Regions from separate parts of the Homo sapiens genome. Here region 1 is linked to region 2. Evidence: fine-mapped expression QTL. A gene starts in region 2. The other region holds a variant in brackets. All regions are shown on one strand. Distances are from middle to middle. Region 1 holds the start of FAM111A (FAM111 trypsin like peptidase A). Region 2 holds the start of FAM111B (FAM111 trypsin like peptidase B).

Region 1 (15,893 bases), 30 kb after region 2:
GAGGGTGCAAGCCCCAAGCCTTGGTGCCTTACACATGGTGTTGGGCCTGCAGGTGAACAGAAGTAAAGAATTGAGGTTTGGGAACCTCCACCTAGATTTCACAGGATGTATGGAAACGCCTGGATATCCAGGCAGAAGTTTGCTGCAGGGGTGGAGCCCTCATGGAGAACCTCTGCTAGGGCAGTGCAGAAGGGAAATGTGAGGTGGTAGCCCCCACAGAGAGTCCCCCCGAGACACTGCCTAGTGTAGCTGTGAGAAGAGGGCCACCATCCTCCAAACGCCAGAATGGTAAATCCACCAACAGCTTGCACCATGCTCCTGGAAAAGCTTCATGCCAGACTGTGAGTTTGCCCAATGTCCATTTTCATGCCAGCTCATGAAAGCAGCCGGGGAAGGGGGAGTGGGCTGTACCCTGCAAAGCCACAGGGGCAGAGCTGCCCAGGACCATGGGAACCCACCTCTTGCATCAGTGTGACCTGGATGTGAGGCATATAGTCAAAGCTTATTTTGGAGCTTTAAGATTTGACTGCCCTGCTGGATTTTGGACTTGCATGGGGGCTGTGGCCCTTTTGTTTTGGCAATTTATCCCATTTGGAATGGGTATATTTACCCAAAGCCTCTACCCCCATTATATCTAGGAAGTAACTGACTTGCTTTTGATTTTACAGGCTCATAGGTGGAAGGGACTTGCCTTGTCTCAGATGAGACTCTGGATTTGGACTTTTGTATTAATGCTGCAATTAGTTAAGACTTTGGGAGACGGTTGGAAGGGGATGATTGTGTTTCGAATTGTAAGGACATGAGATTTGGGAGGGACCAGGGGTGGAATTATATGGTGTGGCTCTGTCCCCACCCAAATCTCATCTTGAATTGTAGCTCCCATAATCCCCATATGTCCTGGGAGGGACCCAGTGGGAGGTAATTGAATCATGGGGGTGGGTTTTTCCTGTGCTGTTCTTGTGATAGTGAATAAGTCTCACAAGACCTGATGGTTTTATAAAGGGCAGTTCCCCTGCACATGCTCTGTTGACTGCCATCATGTAAGACACGGCTTTCCTCCTCCTTCACCTTCCACCATGATTGTGAGGCCTCCTCTGCCATGTGGAACTGTGAGTACATTAAACCTCTTTTTCTTTATAAATTACTCAATCTCAGGTACTTCTTCATAGCAGTATGAAAATGGACTAATAAAAGTTCAAAGTTCCACCGATCTCTAGGTCAGGGGTAAAATGCCTCCAGTCTCTTTGCTAAAGCATAGCAAGAGTGACATTTGCTCCAGTTTCAAATAAGTTCCTCATCTCCATATAAGAACACCTCAGCCTGTACTTCGTTGTCCATATCACTCTCAGCATCTTGGTCAAAACCATTCAGCAAGTCTCTAGGAAGTTCCACACTTTCCCACATCTTCCTGTCTTCTGAGCCCTCCAAACTGTCCCAACTTCTTCCTGTTACCCAGTTCCGAAGTGGTTTCCACATTTTTAAGTATCTTTGTGGCAGTGCCCCAAACTCCTGGTACCAATTTCCTGTATTAATCTGTTTTTACACTGCTACAAAGAAATACCCAAAACTGGGTAATTTATAAAGGAAAGAGGTTTAATTCACTCACAGTTCCACATGGCTGGGGGGCCTCAGGAAACTTACAATCATGGAATTAGGGGAAGAAAATATGTCCTTCTTCACAGGGTGGCAGGAGAGATAAAAGTGTAGTGGGAATAGCCCCTTATAAAACCATCATATCTTATGAGAACTCACTATCATGAGAACAGCATGGGCAAAACTGTCCCCATGATCCAATCACCTCCCACCAGATTCCCCCCTTGACACTTGGGGGTTATTGGGATTAAAATTCAAGATGAGATTTGGGTGGGGACACAGAGCCAAACCATATCAGTATGGCTCTTACCTTAGGGAAACCTGACAGCTTGGAAGAGATGGCTGAGTAGCTGACCAGACATTTGAGTTCGAATCGTGAAGCTGAGGGAGGAAAAAGTCAGAGTTTAAAGCCTGTCAGCTAGTAGGAAACCTAATAAACACCACAGGATTTTGGATGGGTAAAAAGTTGTTGTACCCAAGGAATAAAAATGTTCCAGAAATATCTCAGCCTTCACAGGGACACAAGTCAATTTGAAATCACCTCAATCTAAATTAGGTTAATGTAATCTAGGACTACAAGTGACTCCCACCCAGCTGCTTGCAAAAATTAATGGTAAAGTCTCTTTGGAGGAAGGTTATATTATCTTTGGCTTCTAATTTTTTCTACAAGACAAAATTTCCTACAGAAAAATGAATGTCAATCTTTGACTTTTATAAAAAGGTAAGGAACTTTTATTGGCAAAATCAATCAAGAAAGATGGTAAAAATGTAGATTTAATAAGAAAAAATGTGACAGTATTCTATCCAATACTAAAATGGGAGTTACATATTTTAACTATAAGTATTTGCCTATAAGCCCATTCAAGGGCTTACAGTGCTCATGGAAGTGATCACCCTTCTTTCTTCATTTCTACCTGAATAGTAGAGCATTAGAGTCATTCTTTCTCTACCAGACCATGTGAATTGACATTTCCTGTTTTAGATTGTACTGAAACTAAAAGAAACAACTGTACAACCAAAGATGAGGTATAACCTTAACCAAAATTATATCTCTGGACATTTTCATAAAACCATGGGTCCTCTTATTAAATGCTGGAACCCAGTACTCCTCCTGCTACAACCACACACACTAAAGATTTCAAATCACCTGATCCTACTATTGCAAATAAATCTCCACTGAGTTATTCATGGAAGTGTTTAATAGGGTAAATCAGTTGTAAAATCTTGTTTTTAAACAGCATGCAAATAAAGCCTGCTCTTCATGGCCCCAGTTCTGAAAGCCCTGTCATGTATCACTGCTTGAGCTTACCTGCCGTATGACTTCTGCCTCCATCCCTCTGAACCAAAGATGGGCCTCACAAGATGGACCAGAAACACAGTGGTTCCAAGTGGTTATAGTAAGATTCATTTGCCACCTAAATTTTAGGTAAAAATTATCACTGGAATGTTCAGGAACTGGGCACATAGACCCTGGAATTTTGCAACAGCAAACACATCTGAATTTGGAATCTATATCTCAAATGTTACCACCTCTGTGACAGCATCCCTGAAGCCCTCTCTGTGCTACCACTGCAACCTGTTCACTTCTGTATTATGGTTATAACTCTTTTTTTAATTTTTTTTTTTACTTTTACTCATCTACTAGATTGTGACTTAATGGGTGGTGAGGACAATGTTACGTTCATCTTAGCAATCCCAATGCTTGACACTATATCTGGCATGCACAAAAATTTCCTCCAAAAAGACGGAATAAAATTTTTAAAAAGATACTTTAGGTTTATAGGTATTAGACATAAATTAGTGGAAGGTAACAGCTATCCCATAGAGCACATTAGAGAGACTGGTGTTCCAACAGCTACATGAAGTGGAACCACACAAACCAGCTAAAGGTGAGGCCCTGCAGGTTGGGCTTCTCCAGCACTTTCTGTCTTTGCTGCATGATCCTCATGGACTGCATCCAACCTTGTAAAGTCAGCCAAGAAGAGAAAAATCAGAGGCTCGTCCATTCCTTGCCGGTGTGATGACATGAGGAGCCATCCTTTGTGAACAGAACTCATTGGTTTCTGCAGTTTTTTGTTTTGTTGTTGCTTTTGGTAAAGGTTGGTTATAGCGTTGAAGCAGAACTAAAAGACGTCCACTCACAGTGAACTCTGGCTAATGATTCTGGACAGTCCAATCCTGTGGTTCAACTACTTCAATGGCCAGCCAAGGGAAAAGGGACTGAGTATATAAATTAATTCCCAGGCTTCAGGGAGCAGAAAACGCCTGCAATTCGTTTGGACATTGCAGTGTGCTTTTGCTCTTGTTGGCTATAAAAAGGCTAGGGAGAAAAACCAAAGTTAAGGAATTAAACTTCCTACTATATAACATATTGGTTTACAAGAAAAAACATATATATATAAAGTTATTTATATTTAAACCTTTATATTTTAATCCTTAACTCTTCCCCAGGAATCCCTATACATTTTCACAATAATCCAGGATACCACAAATGATGGAGAGAAGGGCATTTGAGATCTTGTTAGCCCTTGAGGCCGCCCCAAGAGGCTCACCAGCTTCAGATCTAGCACCATCAGACCAACAGATGGTTCTCAGAGGAGCACATGGAAGTGAACGTCCAGCTTCCCAACTTAACACCCCCGCTAATCACTCAGCCAGGGAAAAGCAGTTTCCCAGAAGGCTCAAGCTCTGTCCAAGAGAAGTGAGGGCTGGGCAAACCATTTCCACGTCCTGCTGCCACTGGGCATGAGGGATGTGGGTTCTCACCTCAGCTCCGCCCTCCCCTTACCCGGTTTCCGCAGGCTAATCCTCTGTCGCCATCTGCTGGCAGCGCGCGGCACTCCCCAGCCCGGTTAGGAAGAAACGGCTTTGCTGGGTGAGATTTAGGGGCTGCTCTCGCGTCTCGTCTCGGGAGCTGTCCTGAAAGGGGGCTGCCACGCTGGTCTCATTCTGTAGAGCTGCAAATTAAGGAGCACTGCGGGTGCCTCCAGAGGGTCTTGGAGGGTCATTTGGGCTGTGAGGTTGTAGGGAAAAGAAAGAGCGATCAGACTGTTACTGTGTCTATGTAGAAAGGAAGACATAAGAAACTCCATTTTGACCTGTACCCTGAACAATTGCTTTGCCCTGAGATGCTGTTAATCTGTAACTTTGCCCCAACCTTGAGCTCACAGAAACATGTGTTGTATGGAATCAAGGTTTAACGGCTCTAGGGCTGTGGAGGATGTGCCTTGTTAACAAAATGTTTACAGGCAGTATGCTTGGTAAAATTCATCGCCAGTCTCTATAGACCAGGGGCACAATGCACTGTGGAAAGCCGCAGGGACCTCTGCCCTGGAAAGCTGGGTATGGTTCAAGGTTTCTCCCCATGTGATAGTCTGAAATATGGTCTCATGGGATGGGAAAGACCTGACCATCCCCCAGCCCGACACCCTGAAGTATCTGTGCTGAGGAGGATTAGTAAAAGAGGAAAGGCTCTTGCAGTTGAGATAAGAGGAAGGCCACTGTCTCCTGCCTGCCCCGGGAACTGAATGTCTCGGTATAATACTCGATTGTACATTTGTTCAATTCTGAGATAGGAGAAAAACCGCCCTGTGGTGGGAGGCAAGACATGTTGGCAGCAATGCTGCTTTATTATTCTTTACTCCACTGAGATGTTTGGGTGGAGAGAAACATAAATCTGGACTATGTGCACATCCAGGCATAGTACCTTCCCTTGAACTTATTTGTGACACAGATTCCTTTGCTCACGTTTTCTTGTTGACCTTCTCCTCACTATGACCCTGCCCTCCTACCGCATTCATCTTGCTGAGATAGTGAAAATGGTAATCAATAAATAATGAGGGAACTCAGAGAATGGTGCAGGTGCGGGTCCTCTGTATGCTGAGGGCCGGTCCCCTGGGCCCACTTTTCTTTCTCTATACTTTGTCTCTGTGTCTTATTTCTTTTCTCAGTCCCTCCTCCCACCTGATGAGAATTACCCACAGGTGTGGAGGGGCTGCCTCCGAATTAAGGAGCACAGCGGGCGCCTTGAGAGGGTCTTGGAGGGTCATTCGGGCGGTGAGGTCTGGAGGAAAGCGGGGCGGGTTTCTTCCTCCTGAGGTACCAGGAAGATGGAGGCCACTGCAGACCGCGTGCCCCTACTAGTCCCTGCGGCCCTGGGCGCTCGAACCTCGGGCCACAGCTAGGATGGGCGCGGTGGTTATTCCCTTTTCTGGAAGGAGGAAGGCTAGCAGCCTCTGGAGTTTTGATGGGGCCGACACCCCCTTAAGAGTCCAAACGAAGGCTCCTTATGAAGGCATTACTCTCATAGAGGTTCTTTGCCTTCCAGGTCTTTGACTGAGCTGGAGTCTATGATCTGGATCCTAGGAATCCCGATCTCACAACACTTTTGACCTCAAATTGAAGTGAACATCACCTTTTCCTGCTAGTAGTTGAGTAATTTGGTAATATTTATCCAAAACCTAAAAATCATGCACAATCATCTAGACCATCAAAACAGAGTAACATGGTAGTAGTAAGAGAAGTAACAATGGCAAAGGCGCCATACCATTTCCGGAGCGTTCGTGCCAGGTACATCTCCACGACCATCCCATAGGCTACCTCATTTAGGCTCATGCCCTCTATGAGACAGTATTAGCGGGGGCATGTTCTTTACATGCAACGACAGAACCAGGACAGAGGCAAACATAAAGACGCAGTGGCTTTCAGGGTCGAGCTCAGCACAGTGTTAATTCTGTCTATATTCTACTGCCCAAAGCCCAACATTGATGGGGTGGAGAGCAACTGCAAAGGCACCTGGCAACCAGTGTGTGTACAGGGAAGGGGGAAGATCTGAGAACAATTTTCCACACTCGGCCACTGGTTCTTCCAATTCTCCAAGTACTTCAAACTAGATTAAACAGCAAACGTGTATTTAATATAGAATGTGTGTGCATTTTAATATATTGGATAGGCTATGAGACGTGACCTGGAAAAGCACTAGGCTTAGATACAATATTGCATTAAACTGCTCTGGGTCCATGAATGTGAGAATCATATTCATTCACCTCTGTTCCCCAATGTCCAGTACAATACCTGGCACAAAGTAGGAATTAACACATCTCTTAAATGAATGAAACCATGTGGAAATGATATTATTTGTGTACCTCTTCTGTCTTCCCTATTTGAGGGCAGGGGTCAACATTTTACCCTTCATAGAATGTGGCACCGGATCTTGTAAATTGCCACCCGAAATTTATACCTTGAATAGATTATTGGATTAATGAAAAAGCATTATACTAGGAAGAAGTAAGCCACTGTGCCTTTTTGCAGTTAGATCTGAGAGGCAGCCATCATTCAATAGAATAAGTTTGGCTTCTAGTTTCAGATGGGAATACAAATCCTCATAAGGATGTTTCTGCACAATTATTTGCTAAAGCTTTTTGTGAAATGGCGAAGATAATCTCACCTTCCCCACAGGGTTATTGAGAGTATTAAATGAAACAGACACATGTAAATGCCAAGCTCAGAGAGGAACTCAAAGCAGTACAGCAGCAGAGGTCATTTCCCTCTACACACTCCCTGCTGCTTCCGTGGGCAGACATAAGTGTTAGCCAGGCCAATGAAAGCAGTTAAGCAGCCAAGTTGGACTTTGCCAAGGGATCCCACACCACCACCACCCCTTTTAAAGGTTACTACAAAAGTAATCTTAAGAAAGTTTTATATATAATAACTGTGATATTTTTAACTTGATTGCACATCTTATCAAACAGGTATTGATTTTCAGTGCTTTCAATGATTAAGAATAAGGGCAACAAAAAAGAAAATCTGTGTATAATATGATGAACCTGGAATTTTTGGTTTCATACGTGTGTGTATATATATGTATATTTATGTATATATATATATATACACACACAGAGCAGTAATGGCCTTTAAAATAAATTCAAATAATGATAGAAAACAAAACATCTTCATGCATGGTGTAATCTTTTTCCTACAAGAAGGCCTTGTTTTAAAAATGTGCATAAGGTTATGCTTTTGCATATTTTATATAATTTCTTAAAGGTATGTTATCAAATTAATGTTTTCCAGCCAGGGTATCATATTTAAGGGTGATAGTAAATACTCCAAACACACCAGCTGTCACAAAATAATTATGCCTATGTCTATTATTGTTATCTGTTTCTCATAAAATTAATCATAAATGATATGAATTATTGATTAAAATTAGTGTTTATAGACTATAAACCTATGAAAAGCCACAAGAGCAGTATTTTTACATATTTTTCAAGAATTCAGATAACAGTGTAACCTTTGATTATAATAACAGAATTCATTTCTGTAGCAGAATTACAAATACAGCAATTATAAATATAAATGATACTCCGTTAAGTCCATCCTGCTTTTAACTGTGCAACTATTTACAGCCAGAGGCAGGAATAAAAAAGGGTGTATACGTGTGGAAGAAAATTCACTCCATGCTGTTTTTGACCTTGCGTGTAAAAAATAATTCATTACTATCAAAAGAGGCATTTTCCCAAATAAAAACAAACAAGGAAACAAAAACACAGGAAAAAAAAAAAAACTACTTACTGACCGTGACTTAAGTGTGGAGGAAAAAACCCTTTGCAGCTAATGTTGGCAAAAGTGTGTCCCCCGTAGATTTAGTCTAAGAATTAAGAAACTGGCCGGGCGCGGTGGTTCATACCTGTAATCCTAGCACTTTGGGAGGCCAAGGTAGGCGGGCTGCCTGAGTTCAGGAGTTTGAGACCAGCCTGGGGAACATGGCGAAATCCTGTAGTCCCAGCTACTCAAGTGGCTGAGGCATGAGAATCGCTTGAACCTGGGAGATGGAGGTTTCAGTAAGCCAAGATCATGCCACTTCACTCCAGCCTGGGTGACACAGTGAGACTCTGTCTCTAAAAAAAAAGAAAAAAGAAAAAAGAAAAAAATAGCCTGTTTAATGAAGCATTGACAAGGAACCCAGGCTATGATTATAGAATAGGAGCTTCATAGTAATTGTAAGAACTCTGGTTCTTAGAAGACAAAAGTTAAATTTAATAAATAAGTTTAATGGCCAAAATATCTTTTTAAAACTTGTTTGTAGTCTTTAGAATGTGAATTTTATTTGGTTTAGATCTTACTAAGCTATATTTTGTAACTGAAATTAATACTTCATTTTTGCCTGAAATTAGTAGAAAAAACAATAGCTAAAGTTTGCTACAGATAAATAAATGTCAATATTAGACTTTTTTTCTTTTGAAAAGGTAGGGAACTTTAATTAGTAATATAAGTTAAGAAAATGACAAAGATGTCAGATAATGAAGAAAAAATGTGACAGTAATCTTTCATCCAAAAAAAGGTTATGTTCCTATTGTCTAAAGCCAAAATATATTTCATTGCAAATATATATAAAGTTTAAGAATTGTTATTTTAGGCCCTTTCCGCAATAAGCCAACACATAACTTATCATGCCATAAATGTTTTTAAAAGAAATATGATTAAAATTATACAAAACGACATAAAAATTTCAGAAAGAATATTGATAAATATCTTGGTACATAGTAGATTTAGTTGCACAGATATTAGGTGGTACAAGTTTTATATCTTCTATAATAATAACTTTTTATTATCTCCTTGTGCACTAATATTTCAATATGTCAAAGTCATTTGAATAACCTTTCTAGTAAATCTCAACTTCGTAGATTGAAAACTTTTTTAAAAGCTTTATTTAAGTTTAGTGGTACATGTGCAGGTCTGCTATATAGATAAACTCATGTCATGGGGGTTTGATGTACAGATTATTTCACCACCAAGGTATTAAGCCTAGTACCCATTAGTTGTTTTTCCCGATCCTCTCCCTTCTTCCATCCACCACCCTCCGATAGGCCCCAGCGTCTGTTGTTCCCCTCTGCGTGTCCATGTGTTCTCATCATTTAGCTCCCACGTATAAGTGATAATATGCAGTATTTGATTTCTGTTCCTGCATTAGTTTGCCAAGAATAATGGCCTCTAGCTCCATCCATGTCCCTGTACAGGACATGATCTCATTATTTTTTATGGCTGTGTAGTATTCAATGGTATACTGAGTTTTCTTTATCCAGCCTACCACTGATAGGCATTTAGGTTGATTCTTTGCTATTGTGAACAGCGCTGCAAGGAACATACGTGTTCGTGTGTCTTTATGAAAGAATGATTTATATTCCTTTGGGTACATACCCAGTCATGGGATTGCTGGGTTGAATGGTAGTTCTGTTTTTAAGTCTTTGAGGAATTGCCACACTGTTTTCCACAATGGTTGAACTAATTTACACTCCCACCTAGTATATAATCCTTCCTTTTGGAAACAAATTTTATCAGTATATTCAATTCTGAACACCCATGTTTTAGAAAATGTTAAGCCTATTGTCCTTTAATCACTATTTGCTTACACATTAAAATGTAAAACAGGCAAAAGAGAAAGAAGGAAGAAAGGAGGGAGGGAGGGAAGGAGAAAAGTGAGAAAGAAAGAAAGATAAAAGAAAAAAGAAAGAAGAAAGAAAGAAAGAGAAGAAATAAAGAGAAAAAAGAAAGGAAGAAAGGAAGGAAGGAATGAAGAAGAAAAGAAAAAAGAGAAAGAAAGAAGGAAAGAAAAAGAAAAAAAGAAAGAGAAAGAAAGAAAGAAA[G/GAGAA]AGAAAGAAAGAAAGAGAGAGAGAGAGAGAAAGAGAGAGAAAAGAAAATTTTCTCCAGATTAGAATTATTGGCTGCTATTGTTTGGATGCTGGGTACTAGCTGTGATTACCCTTTGTGAATGTAGGAATGCACAGATTCCAAAAGTGAGTCTCATAGAAAAAGTCAGCATTCAAATATGTTTTAAGGTTACTCTATCCAAACCCCAAAGAACCCACAGAAGATGAAGCAGTAATTTTAGCTTCTCTTGGTGTATTGTACATGCATTTAAGGCCAGTTCCTTCCTTCAAATTCCCATGTGTTTTGTAGTTACCAACACACCTTTCAACCCTATCTGTTTATATACATCATATAGTCCTCTGTCAATTGCATAAAAGTTGTCCCCTTTGTGACTGTAATCGCCTTTTCCAATACACATCTACTCAGAATGCAGGTCCTTAAACAGCAGGCTGCCTTGAAAACCCTCTCCAATCTTCTTCGATCATCAGCTTTGAGATGCATATTCCTAGAGCCCATATCATCTTCTTCATCACTATCATAAACGTCTCCACATATTGATGAACGTTTGGAGAATCGATTTATGACAAGGGAGTTTACTCTTCCTGCATCCGCGGCTTCTTCGTGATTTTGTCCTAGTCACCGGGCCTATCCCACCTGCTGGGGATGCCGCCCCCTCGGAAGTGCCTGAAATCTCCCCACTTACCCAACTAGCCTCAGCGCCTCCTGTGTGCTGCAGCAGATGGCGCGCTGCAGACCCCAGCCTGGTGCCTCCGCGACTCCTCCCCAACCATGATTTACAGGCGGGGACAGCCACATTCCTGCGCCCCAACTTCCACCTCCGCTTCCTGCGCGCGCGAGACTCAAGCTGCCACAGTGGCTCTGCCGCCAGCGTCCCAGCTCCTCCCACACCCGAGTTTTTATTTCCTGCTCCCTCTCCAGCCCGGCCCAGGCCAGCCTACCGGCGACTAGGATGCTTTCGCTTTCGCTCTCGCTTTCCAATACTCGGGACTGGGGAAACCGGGAGAATAGAAGCAGGCAAGGACCGCCGTGGGCACGGGGTCAGTGAGACAGGGTCCTGCTCGCGGCGTCAAGGAGGAGCGCTGTGGGTGGGTAGGGTAGGCGCGCCCCCTCGGCCTTGCCTTTCCAACCACTCTTTTTTGCACGCCAACAGGTGTCCCCAGCGCAGCCAATCGGCTTCCGAAGTAGGTGAGTTGCTGCCTGAAGAGAAAAGACAAACTCCAGTATCTTTCATTCCATTGGCCAGACGCGCCATTCCCCAAGTGAGTTCTGTTCTCCAACCAAAGTGCTGGATTCCAAGGGACTGGAAGGGAAAGTCCCTAAAAATCACGAGTTCAGGCGTCTGAGACTTGGTGGGAACGGACCTTCCTCTTAGGTGAGTTACTCTTTGGTTCTGGGGCTGACCTGGAGTTTTGCCAGGATTCATTGGCCGCAGCAGGATGCTGGTGGGGACAGGGTAAATAAAATCTGCACTCCTGCGGGCTTTTATTGTTGAAAGGGGCACTGACGCTCTCCCTGGAAACTTAAAAAGAACAGCCAAGTGAACGGATGTGTCTTTCTTTTGCAGTGCCCAAGCCTGTTCTAATTTTTAAAAACTGATGTCTATTAAGACCCAATGTTAACTTTATGAAAATGGTTCCTAAGGAGATTCACATCTCTGTGTCCGAATTCTGTGTGCAGCAAACATCATCTCAAGTGCGTTTTCCCAACTACGCTTCTTTCCAGGATAAAATACTCTAAGTGACAAATGTTGAGTACATTATCAGGTATGTTCACTATTGTGAGAACTGAAGCCATCTACACTCACATAGCTTGCCAACTACATTAACCTGACTTCTTATTCCATTATTTTCATCAACATACATTTACTATTTCAAGAAACTTTTGCCAGGGACCGGAAAGTTGCAAATATCTTTATTGCTTAATCCAGTATCTTCTTCAAAGATCCAACCACTCTTCAATGGAAAACATCAAAGAACAGTTTACATTCTAAGACTTTGAACCTTTACCTCAAAATCCTAGCCTTGTTTTATCTACCAATCCTAAACTTTTACCCGTAGCTGACTCAATTCTAACCAATTCCCCTCATTAAATATTAGACTTACAATGGGACTTCAAAATCTCAATACATATAGCCCAAACTTGCTCTTCCCTCTCTGAGACACCACTTAAATTCTGTCAAGTTATTGTTCTCCATTACCTAAGTGAGCAAGAAACTTAGCTTTGTCTTATCAACAGGTTGCTTTGATATTACTGGGAGCCAACATTTGACATTCTTGGAGGCTCCAGCAAGACCTAATCAACCTCCCAACCCTCAACTCAGAATCAGTGTGTGCCCTGAAGTCCCTTCAACCTTCTTGAGGCTCTCCCTGATCTCAAAGGTGGAGAAAGTAGATCTTGCATCAGGTTGAACTCCAGTTTCTTTTTGCTCAGTTTTTCAAGCGCTGAGTTTATTTTGTCCCTAGGCATAAAGAAATCTTTCTAGGAACCCCTTTGGTTATGGGACCAGATTTTTAAAAGCTTTTTAGGCTTGGTGAAAAATCTGCCTTATCACTAGCAACACTACGACTTGTCTCTGTTCTTGTTTTTTGTTGTACTCGTGTAAAAGAAAAGTTCAAGGGAAGAGAACAGGCTCAAGTCTACTTCTCACGCTGGCTCTGGGGATTAGGAAATTCAGAAAGTTTTGTTTCAGACTGGCAGTGCTGTCTGATATAAACACAGCGTCAAGTACTGCACGCTGTAGCTACCTGAGGTTTAGGCCGGAAGAGGCACGGCTGATTTAAAAGTGAAAGAAAGTAACCAATTGGTTCGCAGACAACCTTTTCCCAAAAGGCGGGCGATTCAAACCCCTAGCCCCACCTGCTCCGTTTCCCGCCCAGCTGGAGCTCTGGAGCCTTTGCTTCCTCAAATACGAGCGGGAACTGCGTTGAGCGCTGGATTCCAGGCCGAGTGCTGGCGAGGCGCGCAGTGAGTGAGCACACAGGGCGCTGGGGTGCTCCGCGGGGCGCGGTCACGGGCGCGGCCGCGGCGGGCTCGAGTCCCGGCTGGGAGGAGAAGGAGCTGGGTGTCAGGAAGCCGGGGACTGACAGCGCCACCCATCTGGGGAGCCGGGAGGACACAGGTTTTATTTTGGTAGTGCTGCAAGTCCCCTTGTGTGCTGGGGGGAGCGGGGCGGCGTGGTAGGATTGGAAGAGGCTTAGAGTTGGCCTCGACCCCTGCCCTTGCCCCTGGAAAGGCAGAAAGTGGGGGTTGGGGTGCGGAGAAGCAGGAAGAGAGGGAGAGTGAAGGAGGGGAGGAAAGGGAGAGAGGAAGAGGGAGAGTGAAGGAGGGGAGGAAAGGGAGAGAGGCAGAGAGGGGGAAGGAGAGAGGGAAGGAAGGAGAGATTGAGAGACAGAGAAATTCCTAAGGGGAGCTGTCAGGTGGGCTGGACATGGGCCCCAGGCTGCACTGCTTTATCCCTTTGCTGTAGGAAGTCAAGCAAGTTCTTTAGGTAAGTAGAACCTTGATGTCAAGTATAAAACAGGGGTTGGTATAGGATAGCTAAGAGCACTTTATATTTTGATATAATCTGATTTATCCTGGATACTGAAAACAATGTAGGGAGACGGAGGATATTGGAGTGTTTTCTTAACCTCTTGCCCCTTTCCACTGTGATTGCTCAAGTACATGCAAAATTAATGTTTCTTTCTGCCCATTTTATTTTCCTTTTTTTGTCTGTGTCTATTAATCATTCCTAAAGCACCCGGATCCTCTCTCAAACTTCGTAAGATGAGACATCATGAACAGACACAGTGAATCCCTAGATTTTCTTAATAGTTGGGCAACAAGTTCTTGCATTTAGGGATGTTGCAACATAGCCCAGTTCCGCAATTGTACATTTTCTATTTTTTTTCCTAGGTTCTCTGCTGTTTAAAAAGTATCCCTGTGGTGAGTGTATTGATATTGATAACATTTACATGACCTTTTTATTGATTATTTACTGGGGGACCTATTACATACAGGCAGTGTTTTAAAGGCTTTGCATATGCTCTCTCTCTCTCTCTATATATATATATATTTACACACACTGTATATATAGATAGATTGCATATATAATATATATAATATGTGTGTGTATGTGTGTATATATATATTGTGTGTGTGTGTGTGACAGAGAGAGAGAGAGAGAGATGAAGTCTCGCTCTGTTGCTCAGGCCTCAGGCTGGAGGGCAGTGGTGTGATCTCGGATCACTGCAACCTCTGCCTCCCAGGTACAAGCCACTCTCCTGCCTCAGTCTCCCAAGTAGCTGGGATTACAGGCACCCACCACCATGCCCAGCTAATTTTTAATTCTTAGTAGAGACAGGTTTTCACCAGGTTGGCCAAGCTGGCCTCGAACTCCTGACTTCAAGTGATCCATCAGCGTTGGCCTCCCAAAGTGCTGAGATTACAGGCATGAGCTACCGCACCCAGACCACAATATATTTCTTAATCTTTATAACAAGGTTGATTCCCACCTTAAGGTGAGGAAAATGAAGGAAGAATAGTTAATTAATATGCCCAAGGTCATGCAGCTAGTAAGTGGCTACCTGATATTTGAACTCAGACAGTTTTATAAGTTCTAACATTATTTTAGCACTTCCATATTCATTATCTCATTTAGAATCATTGCTTCTTTTTACAAACAAGAAATTGAGGCTCAGAAAGGCTAAATGAATTTCCCTAGTCAATGACTGACAGTAAACTAGAAAGCCAGGACTCTTGTTCCATAGTGGAATGGTTACGAGAGTAAACATAGCCTTTAGATAACTTCCATTTGACAAGAAATACAGGGGCTAGAACATAAGTTAAACAATGACATGAGGAAACAACCCAGGAGGTGAACATTCTATAGAGACAATTTCTCTGTTCTCTTCAACAAATCAGTGCTTTTTCTAGAATAAAAGAGCCTTATAAGACATATAAAGGAAACTGTGTACCTCAGTTGGATCTTGGTATGAATAAATCAGTATTGTGATTATAAAAGAAAAATTATGTAATTTTTAGAGATGGGAAGTGACCATTAGCGTTTAAATGTCATGATGTTTCTAGCTGTAACATAAATCATCTAGTAAAATAAAAGGATGGTGTAAGGGTAGCCAAACCCGGGTTTGGCAACTCACACCTCAAAGCCAAACATGAGAGATGAGAGTTGGTGGGAGGAAAAGCAGGTTCATTCAGAGAGCCAGCAAACTGAGAAGATGGCAGACTAGCAACCCAAAGTAGCCTCTTAAGTGAGTACAAGTTTCAGGCTCTTTATGTTAAGGGCATGGGGAAGAGAAGGGATTTACGATCAAGAGGTGACCATTGACTGGAGACATCTGAGCACCATCAAGGATCCAAGAAGGTTGGGAATGTCTTTGTCCTGATGTTCCAGTGAGCCCAAGCATTGATTTGCTGAAGAGAACAGATAAGTTGTCTCTATAGAATGTTAATTTCCTGGGCTGCTTCTACATGTTGTTGTTTAGCTTATGTTCTAGCCCCTGTATTTCTTGTCAAATGGAAGTTATCTAAAGATTATATTTATATTTGTTCTCCAGGTCACAACCCTCCTGTAAATTTTTAACAATCCATAGTTGTTTACATACTTTCCCTTTAATCCCAGAGCTAGTTTTTAAAAC
Region 2 (11,363 bases):
TGGTTGCTGGAGGCTTAGAGACCCCACTCCAGCTCTCTCTCAAATGGGGGCAGCTTGTTTGCAGCAGTGAGTGAGGTGGGCCAACTATGAACCCATGGGAGGAGAGGAAAAGACCATCCCATCTAAGCTTTTACATACCCCATTGCAAGCTCCAGAATGTGGTGCCCAGGCCCATATCTATAACCCACCCCCAGAGGCCAATTCTCCTCAGCCTTTCCTGCCCTTTCTGCCGTTGTACAGCCAGTTTCCATGCTCTCTTCTATCAAACTCCTACTCATCTCTCAGCCATCTAGTCCAAATATAAATCTTTCTCTGTGATATACTCTCAAGGTAGAGGCAGTGGTGCCTTCCTCTGTATTCCGAGAACATGTCATCTGCACCTCTACATACAGACATCATCCTACTGGTAGTGTTCCAGAGCATCTTTTAGGGGTTCATGAAGGAATCACTCTTCGTAAACACTGGCCTTATTCCCTAACTTCACCAGACCTGACCTTAGTGCATGATCCATTCCCACCTCTCCCAACCACATGAGAGCCTTTTCCTCTTTATGGGTTTACAAAACACAAACTGACCCAACCACCAGTTACTGGCCAAAAGCATTCTTGTCACATTTATAATAAAATCCAGCCAACAGGATACTTTGTGCCAAGGGAATGTTCCTTTTCAGGGCAAACACTCTGTCCCCAGGGATGTTAGACAACTTCCATAGCCCCAGATAAGCATTAGCTAGAAGTGAGTTTTCTTTGGTGGCCCAACAGATTCCCTGAGCATCCCTACTCTGTCACTGATTCCAGTTGCAGTGGGATTGCATCAAAGCTCTCAGAGCACAGCTGCAAAGGGTAAAGCAAAGCTAGAGCTCTACTCTGGACCTATCACTCTAGACAGTTTCTCTGTGAGGGGCAGTTTTATACGTAAGGAAGAAATGGAAGATTACTCCCAAAATGGCCTCAGGGTACTTATCCCAATTGTGTGGTTCAGTTGCTACTCCAGTGATGAGCAAATAAACAGGAAATAGAAGCACAACTATTCCTAAGCTCAAGAAGCAGGGAAGCTCAGGAATTGGTGTGCAGCAGTGCTGCTTGGAGCGCCATTACAAAGGGACAAGCACGGTCCACTGGGAGGTAAAATTCAGGGAATCTAAGACACAGGGGGTATGGGAAACAAGGCAGGCTTTTGTATTTATCATTTGCCGTGATATCTCTCTGTGAACTTTCTTTTAATTTTCCCTGTACTTTAATTATATTTCTTAGGCCTGACGTGGTGGCTTACATCTGTAATCCCAGTACTTTGGGAGGCTGAGGCAGGCAGAGCACCTGAGGCCAGGAGTTCGACCCCAGCCTGGCCAACATGATGAAACCCCATCTCCACTAGAAAAACAAAAGTTAGCTGGGCATGGTGGCAGGCTCCTGTAATCCCAGCTGCTCAGGAGGCTGAGGTATGAGAATCGCTTGAACACAGGAGGTGGAGGTTGCAGTGAACCGACATCATGCCACTGCACTCCAGCCTGAGCAATAGAGCAAGACTCTGTGTCAAAAAAAAAAAAAATTCTCAGTTAATGGCCAACATTGTTACCATCATAAGTCCCAGCTTCCCTGTCTTCCTGTCATCATGTGTTGAATGTCCACTTCCCTCCTTATTTTTCAGTTGGAGTGGATTAGCATCTCCAATTCGACATGTCAAAAGTAGAATTTTACACACACACACACACACACACCCCACTCCTGACACACACAGCATCTCTGTCCTCAGACTTCCCCATCCTTCTAGTTGCTCAAGTCAAAAGCCCAGGAATCGTCATTGAGCCCTCTGTTTCTCTTATTTATGGAACATCCATAAGCAAATTCCAAGGGCTGGCCCTTCAAAATAAATGTGGAATCCAGCCATTTCTAACACTTCCACCATTACCATCTGAGGTCGGGCTCCAACATCTTTGCAATCCTGGGACAGACTCTTAGCTGCCTTCTCCCTTCCACATCTCTTCTTGTCCTCCCAGAGTCTTTACCCCGCACAAACGCTGCTAGGGTGATTTTTTAAAATATGTCAGGGTATATTACCCCCCTGCTTCAAATCCTCCATTTAAAATAAATTTCACATTTATAGCAAAATCCAGACTTCTTCATATGGCCCACCAGGGGCTTTATGCTAATGGAATGTGCAGATGCTCCTCCCTGAGGAGCACCTTTTACCAGGGCAAATTCTCTATCTCCAATGATGTCAGGCAATTTCGACAACACCATTCTCTACCATCTCTTGCTTTTCATAGATTTGTTTCCTCCAGATTCTACAAAAAAAGAAGATCAAGTCTCCTTGTGCAATGATTTACTCTCTGATGTATATTGGTGCCAGGCACGTGTACTGCTTTCAGATGATTCAAGAATAACAGCGATTTAAGAAAGCTGTCGTTAAGTTTTCTCTTCTCTTTGTCTGTATGACATTATTTTTACAATTATACTTCCAAAGTTTGCTCTTTCCGAACACCTCAAGACCCGTGTAATTTAAGCAGTGATTTTAGGGGTCTCTGTATATTTTATATTAATTTCAGAAACATGCTCATGATTATTCCACCAAAACTATCAACTGTTACATAAACATCTGTCCTTCTATGAGTTACAAAATAATTGTCTCCATCCCCACTTAACCATCTTCTCTCCTTCTTTGAGCAACTTCTGAAAAATAACACCCAATACTGATGGCATCTCATTCTATTCAGCTTCTCAGACAGTAAGACGTTCTTTTCTTAAACAGTAAGATGTTTTCTCAAGCCCCATGCAAAGCACTTCTTTGATATCAGTTTGGGGAGGTCGTACTCTGGAGCCTTCATCCAAAGGGTAAAGTACAGCACTCAGTAATGCGCGTCCTGGGAACGAGGCCTAAGCAGTGCTGGCCACTGCCTCCTCCAGGCTGGCATTGTCTGTGTTCGCCAGCCCCGCCGCGAAGTTAGCTCATTTGTGATCAGGCCAAGTCCCTTTAGATTTCACGCAGACGCGGGTGCAGCCTGCTCTGGGACTTGAAGTCCGCTGGAGCCTGGGCCTCTGCATTATCCGGGTGGAGCTCTCTCTGCTGCTGCCGCCAAAGGATCCCGCCTGGATGCTCATCCCGCCACCGTCGCCCACCCCGCCGCTGCAGAAAGGCAGCAACTGCCACACACCTAAGCAACTTGGCGGGCTATTCGCCCTGCAGCTGCCGCCAGCGCGCGGCTCCCGCCAGCGCGCTGGCAATCAAAAGTCGGAGAAAGCGCGAAACCTCCAGGCACCTCCCACTCCGCCCAGCTACCGCGCAGCTCCTCCCTAGCCTCCACTGGGAGACAGGGGACGCCCATGAGCGGGAAAGAGCAGGGCGGTGATTGCTTAGTTTATCCTGGGACACGGGAACTGGCCGTGGACTGAGTGGTGCCGGGGAGGGGATCACTGAGACCGGGAAGGGTCATCCAGACAAATAGGGAGGGTGGGCGGGTTGGCGCGCAGTACCCTCGGCCCGGCCTTCAGACCCACCTGCGCGCGCTGCGCGCTCATCCGGTCCTTCCCTTCAATCACTGTCTGGAGTGATGATAATTGGCTTCCACAGTGGATGAGAGATGAGTCATTTACATCCAATGAGAGAAAAACAGCCTCCAGAGACTCTTCGTCCATTGGCCAGCGAGAGTGTCAGTTCCCAGGCTCCTGCCGCGCACGGGCGAGCCCTTCTAGGCGGGAAAAGTTCAGCTGAGAGATATAAAAGAGCAGTCTTTCCAGCACCTGCAAATCCAGAGCGGCGGGCACTGACGGGCACTTGCACCGTGTGGACAGACTCTCCGGTTCTGTGAGTGGTTTTTCTTTTCCCGGGTCGGACCTGGAGTTCTTAGGGGGATGGCTGACAAGGGCAGTAGGCAGAAGGACCTCAGCCCAAAGTCAAGGGGGTTTTGGATGGGGAGCTGGGCAGCCGCCCGTTGTAATTCCCTTCCCCCTGTCTCAGCTTCAAAGGCCAAGAGTTGTACTCCTGAAGAGATACTTAGAGATCATCTGGGTGTTCCTGAATCTCGAGAGGGTCGTTTGACCCTGGTGGGTCCTTTCCCTGCCCGGTGCCGTTCGCGCCCATAGAAGGAGACCAGGTTCGGTTAAGCAGAGCAGAAACTATTCACTGATCAAGGAATGGAGTAGGAGAGCTCCTGCTCAAAGTGCCTGGAGTGTAGTGTGAGGGTGCTTCTTAAGGTCTTTTAGGGCAGGTAGTTGGAAAGCAAGGATTTCTGGAAAGAGACGGGGCTTTCCAGAAACAGCTGAGTGTGGCAGTCTCCTATTTTCTGTTGCCACCCAACACTACATGTGCCTAGCAAGCTGCGTTTCTCCCCGAGGCACAGATTGAGGTATGGTAATCAGCAAGGATTCAGGTTAGGGTAGCGCTTCTAAGTTCGTTTCCCATCTTGTAGCACGGTGGTTACTGACATCCAGTCTCTGTTTCTGTAAGCAAGCACAGCTTCAAGCACAGGTTACCTTCATAGGTTCTGGGGCTTTAGGAAAGCATTGAGGTCATCCTGCGGTGACAGAGGCAGCTGTTCAAAGAACTTGGTGCGCCTTTGAGGCGGGGGTTGTGGAGTGAGGCAGGTAAAAATGCAGATTCCATAGCCACACCCCGACATACTGAATCAGAGTCTGTGAGGGTGGGATCTGGAATCCTTTTTAAAAAGCTTAGAGGAACCAATTCACACGAACAATAAAAGTTTCATCTGAGCCAAAGTCCTTAATCTAGAAATGAGGAAATGGGGATCCCTAAAAGGGTTACAGGGAGAGGGTTGGTGGAAAGTTAGACTATGACAGTTTTAGGGTGGTTCTTTCCTGGCCTTGGAAAGTTTTCTCAGCTGCTGCTCTGATCAGTACACAGCTGAATGCTTTAGGGGAACCCTCTTCATATATCCAGAGTTCCCTCTCTGTGCAGGTCTCCCACCATGTCTTTGGCCTGTGACCTCTTGTCACCTTAGTCTCTCAGCTTTGTCTCCTTAAATCTGGAATTCCTACTGGTTTTGTCTTGCTGCCCTTCCTTGCCACACTGGCCTGGAATTCCTCAAGGTAGTCTGCTAAAGTGGATTATAGGATACATTTCAATTGTCACTGTCCTTAATTGCATAATGTCCAGTTCCTTGCAAACCATTGTTTCATATGTTTTGCTCTTTTTTGTTTTGTTTTGTTTTCATACTAGGGGGAAATCCAGTCCCTGTTACTCCATTTTGGCCAGAAATTCAAGGTAATGACTTTTAATGTTTCTGACTGCTAGTTCTATCTTCTCTCTCACTTCTGGACCTGTCTCTATTCACTGATATTTCTAGTCATTATGGGTCATATTTATCCACTTTTTAAGTGCCTGCTGATTTTTTTATTAGATATCAAGCTTTGTTAATTTCACAACTTTGGGTGCCAGAAATTTTTACATTCCTATCAATATTCTTGAGCTTTGTTCTAGTATGTTCATATTTTACATGGAAACCATTTTATACTTTCGAAGCTTGCTTTTATTTATTAGGTGGGAGCAGAACTAGGGCTAATTTTGTCCTACTGCGGAAGAAATACCTTGCAGAGTAGTCTCCCTGATACTTCATGAATTATGAAGTTTTCTAGTCGGATTTTTGGGAATTGAAATTATACACAGTCCTGTATGAGCCTCAGAAATTGTTACATCTGCTTCTTTTGGGTACTTCTTTTCCTGTTCCTTTTCAACAGTTTCGTTCCACTCATGCATTGACCAAGCTGAAATCTCAAGGGATACCCACTGCAGATCTCTCATACTGTGTGCTCCTGTGGCTGTCTTCTCCCTAGTACTCTGTCATACAAGCTCCAGTCATCTTGGCCTCCCAAAACTCCTTGCTTGTCTTCTCAAATCAGGGAAACTACTAGACTCTGCCTGTTTCTCCTTCCTAAGATATGCCTTGGAAACTCCATACAGTAAGCTAAATAGCCATAGGGCTTACCTCATATGATTTTCTTCTCAGATATCAGAGATGAGGTCCCACACCACCTGATCTCCAGTGTTTGAAAGTGGTTATTTCATAGATCTTGTTTTTTTGGTTTTTTTAGACATTTCAGGTGGCAGAATAAATTCAATCCTTGTTTCTCCATCTTATCGAGTAGTAGAAGTTAGTTACATTCTCTTTGAACTCATCATGAATTCCATGAAGACTGAAGAAAACAAGTCATTTAGCGCTATGGAAGATGACCAGAGGACTAGACCTGAAGTTTCAAAGGTATATCTACTTTTTTACAACTCCTCAGAGGAGTGATAGTCTAACTATAGTGCCATATGAGGATCTTGGAGATAAGTTCTTAAACAATGGTCGTTATAAGCCCTTCTCTTAGGTAGTTTAAAATATATTTGGGGAGCTCATACACATAAGTGCTTGTGGAAAGCAAAATGATAGAGTTAACAATGCTAAACGTATGTTAAGACAACAAGATGACTAACAAACAATATAGACACTTAAAGTCTTGGAAAGTGTAGACAGGCAAAAATAATTAGCTAATGTTTTCTGAGGAAACACTGTGTGCCTAGAATTGTGTCCCATCATATGTATTATCTCATTTAACACTTAATAGAACTATGCAGTAGGTATTATTATCATACTTATTTTATAAAAGAAGAAACTGAAGCTCAACTTGCTTATAGTTGCAGAAGTAATGGACTTCAGAGCAAGGATTTAAACCTAGTCCATCAGACTGCAGAGACTGGTTTTTGACCCACACTATTTTGCTCAAAATATGCAAAATGATAATACAAAATTGAGACATAAACAAGTGATTTTAGAGTACAGAGAGAAGAATGCTTAATTCAGACTTAGGAAACTACAGCAGCGTCATATGAGAAATGATTTATTAATGAATAATAAATCTAAAATTGTCAAACTCATAGGTGTCGAAGTGGTTGTTGGGCTGGGAATAGAGAAAAATGGAGGTATTAGTCAAGGGGTACAAAGTTTCCTTATACAAGGTGAATAAGTTCTAGGGATCTGTACAGCATGGGTGCCTATAGTTAATAACACTGTTGTATACTCAAGTTCTTGCTAAAATGATAGATCTTATGTTAAGTGTTCTAATTACAAAAATAATAAGAGGGCAGGAAGAGACTTTGGGAGGTGATAGATAGGTTGATGGCATAGATTGTGGTGATAATGTATCTCCATACTCATCAAGTTGCATACATTAATTATGTACATTAATTATGCATTTTGTATGTCTAAAACTAAGTTATTTTTTAAAAAGAATGAATAACATTTCACTAGTGTATCAAGGATGAAGGAATGGCCTAAGTAAAGTCGTGTACACAGGAAAACATATTTGGGGAACAGGATAGCTGCATTTGATGCTTTATAAGGAGAATTCAAGAATATGGTAGGCAAATACTGTTTTCTATACTGGTAAGGTAGTATGGTGCCAAGATCACAGTAGGCTTTATATCAATAAGAGCTTTCCACATTTCCAGTAAAAATATTTTCTAATTGTGAAACAATAAAATGGATTCGCTGGTTCACATGAGTGGACATTCCAGAATTCAGCTGAGCTCTTAATTCAGTGGTATACAGTTTCTTTAAGGACTTGTTTGTGTGTTCAGTCTCTGTGTTCTGCTTTTCATGTTATCCCCTGGCTGGCTTTCTGCATAGTGACAAATAGAGCTGCAGTAATATCAGATGCTTTACTCTCCCTATAATGAGTCTATCCTGGTTTCCTGAGGAAACTTCTCTTTGCCATCTAATTGTCCCAACTTAAGTAGCTCACCCATTTCAACACAAAACCTTGTGACTGAGAGGGCACATATAGATATTCTTAAGCTGTCATGAATTCATTTCCATACGTGTATGGCTCCTAAAAAGTGGGAGAGAGGTAGAATAGCTTTCTGGAAAATAGCTGCAGTATCTTTTTTTTCTTTGAATTCCATGTGTAGGTTTTTGGATTTCCTTCTGTAAATAAAGGAGATGTGTTTACAGACTTTATCTTTGTATTGCTTAGGAGGAGTTATTCAATTCACTTAAGACTTTGTTAAGTTAAATATTAATGTTAAAATGATTAGGGCTATTTCGTTCAAGACAATTGCCACTAATCACATGTGATTATGTAAATTTAAATTTAAATTCAACTTAACTAAAATCAAATAATGAAAAAGGTCAATAGTACAAATTCTCAGTTATATCACGTGTCAAGTACTTAAGAACCACATGTGGCTGTGGAATTAGACAGTGCAGATGTAGAACATTTCCGTCACTGCAGACATTCTATTGGGCAGTACTAGTCTAGGGCATCCAATTATAGAACAGAACTAGAGTATAAAACTGCCAAACTGTTCGTCTAGAAAATAGAATGAGAGGGAAAAATCAAAGTAAAGGAGGCAACAAAGCAAGGGAATATAAATTCAGAAAAAGTGGCAAAAGTAGAAGATACAAAAAAAGATGATAGAAATGAACACAAAAACCCCCACACCCAATTAATTGTCTTACAGATTATTTGAAAGGCTTTAACTTTTATTGTTTCCTTTAAATTTATGTATTTCATATACAGTAAAATTCAGTCTTTTTGGTATACAGTTGAATGGCTTATAACAAATGCCTGCAGTAATGTAACCATGACCAAAATCCAGAAGCAAAGCAGTTCCATCACCCTAAATAATTTCTTGTGTGGTTCCATCACTCTATATAATTTCCTGTTCTCCCCACTTGTGCCCTATTCATCCCAGTCCCTGGCAACCACTAATCTGTTCATTACTCTAGTGTTAACTTTTCCAGAACATCATATAAATGGAACATACACTGAATCATACCCTTTGAGTCTGGCTTCTTTCACTTAGAACATTCCATTTAAGATTCATGAGTGTTGCATGCACTGATAGGTTTTTTCTTTTTATTGATGAGTAGCATTCCACTGTGTGAATGTATCAAAATCTGTTTATCCATTCACTCCCTTAAGAACATTTGAATTGTTTCCAGTTTGGGGACTTTGTATATAAAGCTGTTGTGAACATTTGCCTGCAGGTTTTTGTATGAAGATTAGTTTTCATTTCTCTTGGGTTCACCTAGCAGTGGAATTGCTGTCATGGAAAGTGTATGACATAACTTTAATTTTATAAGAAATTATCAAAATGTTTACAAAATGGCTGTATGATTTCTCATCCTCGTTACCAATGTGTGAGAGTTCCAGTTGTTTCATATTCTTGTCAACACAAAGTTTTTCTGATTTATTCATTCTCATAGGTATGTAATGGCATCGTTTTGTGGTATTAATTTGTATTTCACTATGACTCATGATTTGAGCATCTTTTCATGTGTTTATATCATCCACATATCTTTGGTGAAGTGTCTATTAAAATATTTTTCCCATTTTATACTTGTTAGTTATTGCTGAGTTTTGAGAGGGCTTTACATATTTTGGAAACAAGTCCTTTGTCATATTGCTTTTCTCATAATATTTGTGATAATTCCTGATATTTTATCTCTGTGTGGCTTGTCTTTTCATCCTTTTATTCCTGTTTCGGGAGGGAAAAGTTTTCAACTTTGATGAAGTCCACTTTCTCTATATTTCTCTTTGTGGATCATGCTTTTGCTTTTACATCAGAGAACTGTCCTAAATCTAAGATCACAAAACATTTCTAGTTTTCTTCCAGAGTTGTAGTTTTAGGTTTAGTCTGCAATTGATTTTAAGTTTTATTTATTTTTTGTATGGTGCAATATCTGGATCAAAGTTTGTGTGTTTGTGTAAATTGTGTGTTGTGTAAAAAAATTAACACAATTGTGGATGATTAGCATCTTAACCATGTTGAGTCTTCCAATCTTGAACAAGATATATTCTCCATTTATTTTGGTCTTGTTTAATTTCTTTTGCTGTGGGGTACCTGGGAGAATAGGCAAACCTGGTGGATGAAGGCAGAGCAGGGAGTGGGTGATTGAAGGGGCAATGTGACTGGTGCATTATTCTCTCCAAGGCCACCAGACAAGGTGAGAACTAGAAAGATCAGAAGTACAAGGCACAAGTGACAGAGGTTAGTCATCCTGACATCATGCAGCTTTAAGATTGTCCAGAGAACTGTGAGTGGCTGCTATTACCTCTGGGTCTCTGGAGTATGTCTTGCCCCTTTGACGAGAAACCCTTGCTTCCTCCACCCTACATAAACTCCTCAAAAGAGAAACCTCTAGCACTGGAATCTCCCTCCCCAGACAAAAGCTCTGCACAGATGGAGTCACGTCTCTATCAGCGTCCCCCAGACTTAGAGTCCCCTGGAAACTGGATGGTCAAGATCATAAGTTATTGGGACTTATGTATGCCAGATGCAACAGTCTGCCCGGCACATTAGACACATCTTATGGGAGTCTCACCACACCTAGAGGGAAGTGTTTTCCAATTTGACAGAAAACAGAGGGGAGGCATTTGTTCAGAATGCATTTGAAACCTGGCCCCTCGGCAAACTTTACTGACCAGCTTCTACTTTAGGGACTAGGCATGTGAAAGAAGGACAGAGTCCCAGCTCTTGTGAACCTTACATTTTAAAGAGTGAAAGAGATTATCCAGGAAACAGACAAATAGAAAGTTTTCGCTAGTGGATCAAGAACATACAAAGGTAACAGAAAGTGGCAAGTGTGTGCCTTGGAGTGCTGCTCCGGCTAGGGAAGTCAAGAGGCCTCTGAAGTGGCCCTGAAGACACCCAAGGGAAGGCCAGACAGAATGGTGAATGCACAAGCCCTGAGAATGGCTAAGGCTTCCTGTCCAGGGCCTGAGTGATCACTGTAGCTGGGACCAAGGGGAGAGGAGCTGAGCAGCAGAAGGTGGGGCAGAGGGAGGGGTGGACAGGGGCCAGAACACTCTAGCCCCATGGGCCTTGGAAAAGAGGGGATGGGAAGATGCTTGAAGGGATAGAAGAGTTGAGAGTGGAGGCTATTCCAAAAACATCCAGGCTAAAGAGGAGGGGGCCTGCAGTGGCCTGAGACTGGGAGCTGAAGGGGCAGAGAGGAGGGGATGGAGTGGATGAGAGGTGTGAAGGAAAAGAGAGATGGAGAATGTAGGGCTTAAACTGTGGAGGCCAGAGAGGGAGCAGAAATGACAAGTAGGTTTTGACCCTAAAACCCAAGCACCTTAGCACTGACAGGAACTTCGCCTTTTTCTTCCTTGTCTCTAATTGGCCAGGACAGTGGTGAGTACATAGTAGATATTCATTCAATCACTTTGATCATTTATTCAATGAACATTTCTTGCAAACCTACGTGCCTGGTACGTCACAGGTACCAAGGATATACCAGTGAATACAGTGGTATCCTTGTTCTCTTGGAGCTGACACTGTAGAGGGAGAAAGGAAAAATAAATTGTGTGTGTTTGTGTGTGTGCATGCACGTGTGTGTGTGTGTTTTGATATGGGCAGAAGGG

The links. PIP is the estimated chance that this variant, and not a neighbour inherited with it, causes the effect.
Region 1: its variant is fine-mapped to the expression of FAM111B in whole blood (INTERVAL, PIP 0.95).

The regions. Positions count from the first base shown.
Region 1 is chr11:59,131,676-59,147,568 of GRCh38, forward strand. FAM111A (FAM111 trypsin like peptidase A) reads left to right here and starts at 11,181. Exons shown (of 6, transcript NM_001312909.2): 1 at 11,181-11,271; 2 at 11,408-11,629; 3 at 11,822-12,020; 4 at 14,152-14,181. It overlaps FAM111A-DT (FAM111A divergent transcript), which reads right to left and starts at 11,133. Exons shown (of 4, transcript NR_110184.1): 1 at 10,940-11,133; 2 at 8,282-8,492; 3 at 4,382-4,606; 4 at 2,297-3,913. It also overlaps the pseudogene LOC100422399. RefSeq lists enhancers at 10,949-11,398, 12,767-12,876. The variant G/GAGAA (reference allele first, on the strand shown) is at 10,239.
Region 2 is chr11:59,103,496-59,114,858 of GRCh38, forward strand. FAM111B (FAM111 trypsin like peptidase B) reads left to right here and starts at 3,742. Exons shown (of 4, transcript NM_198947.4): 1 at 3,742-3,801; 2 at 5,173-5,217; 3 at 6,045-6,211. The coding sequence starts at 6,131. It overlaps LOC105369315 (a long non-coding RNA gene), which reads right to left and starts at 3,230. Exons shown (of 3, transcript XR_007062680.1): 1 at 1-3,230. RefSeq lists enhancers at 3,631-3,720, 4,861-4,910.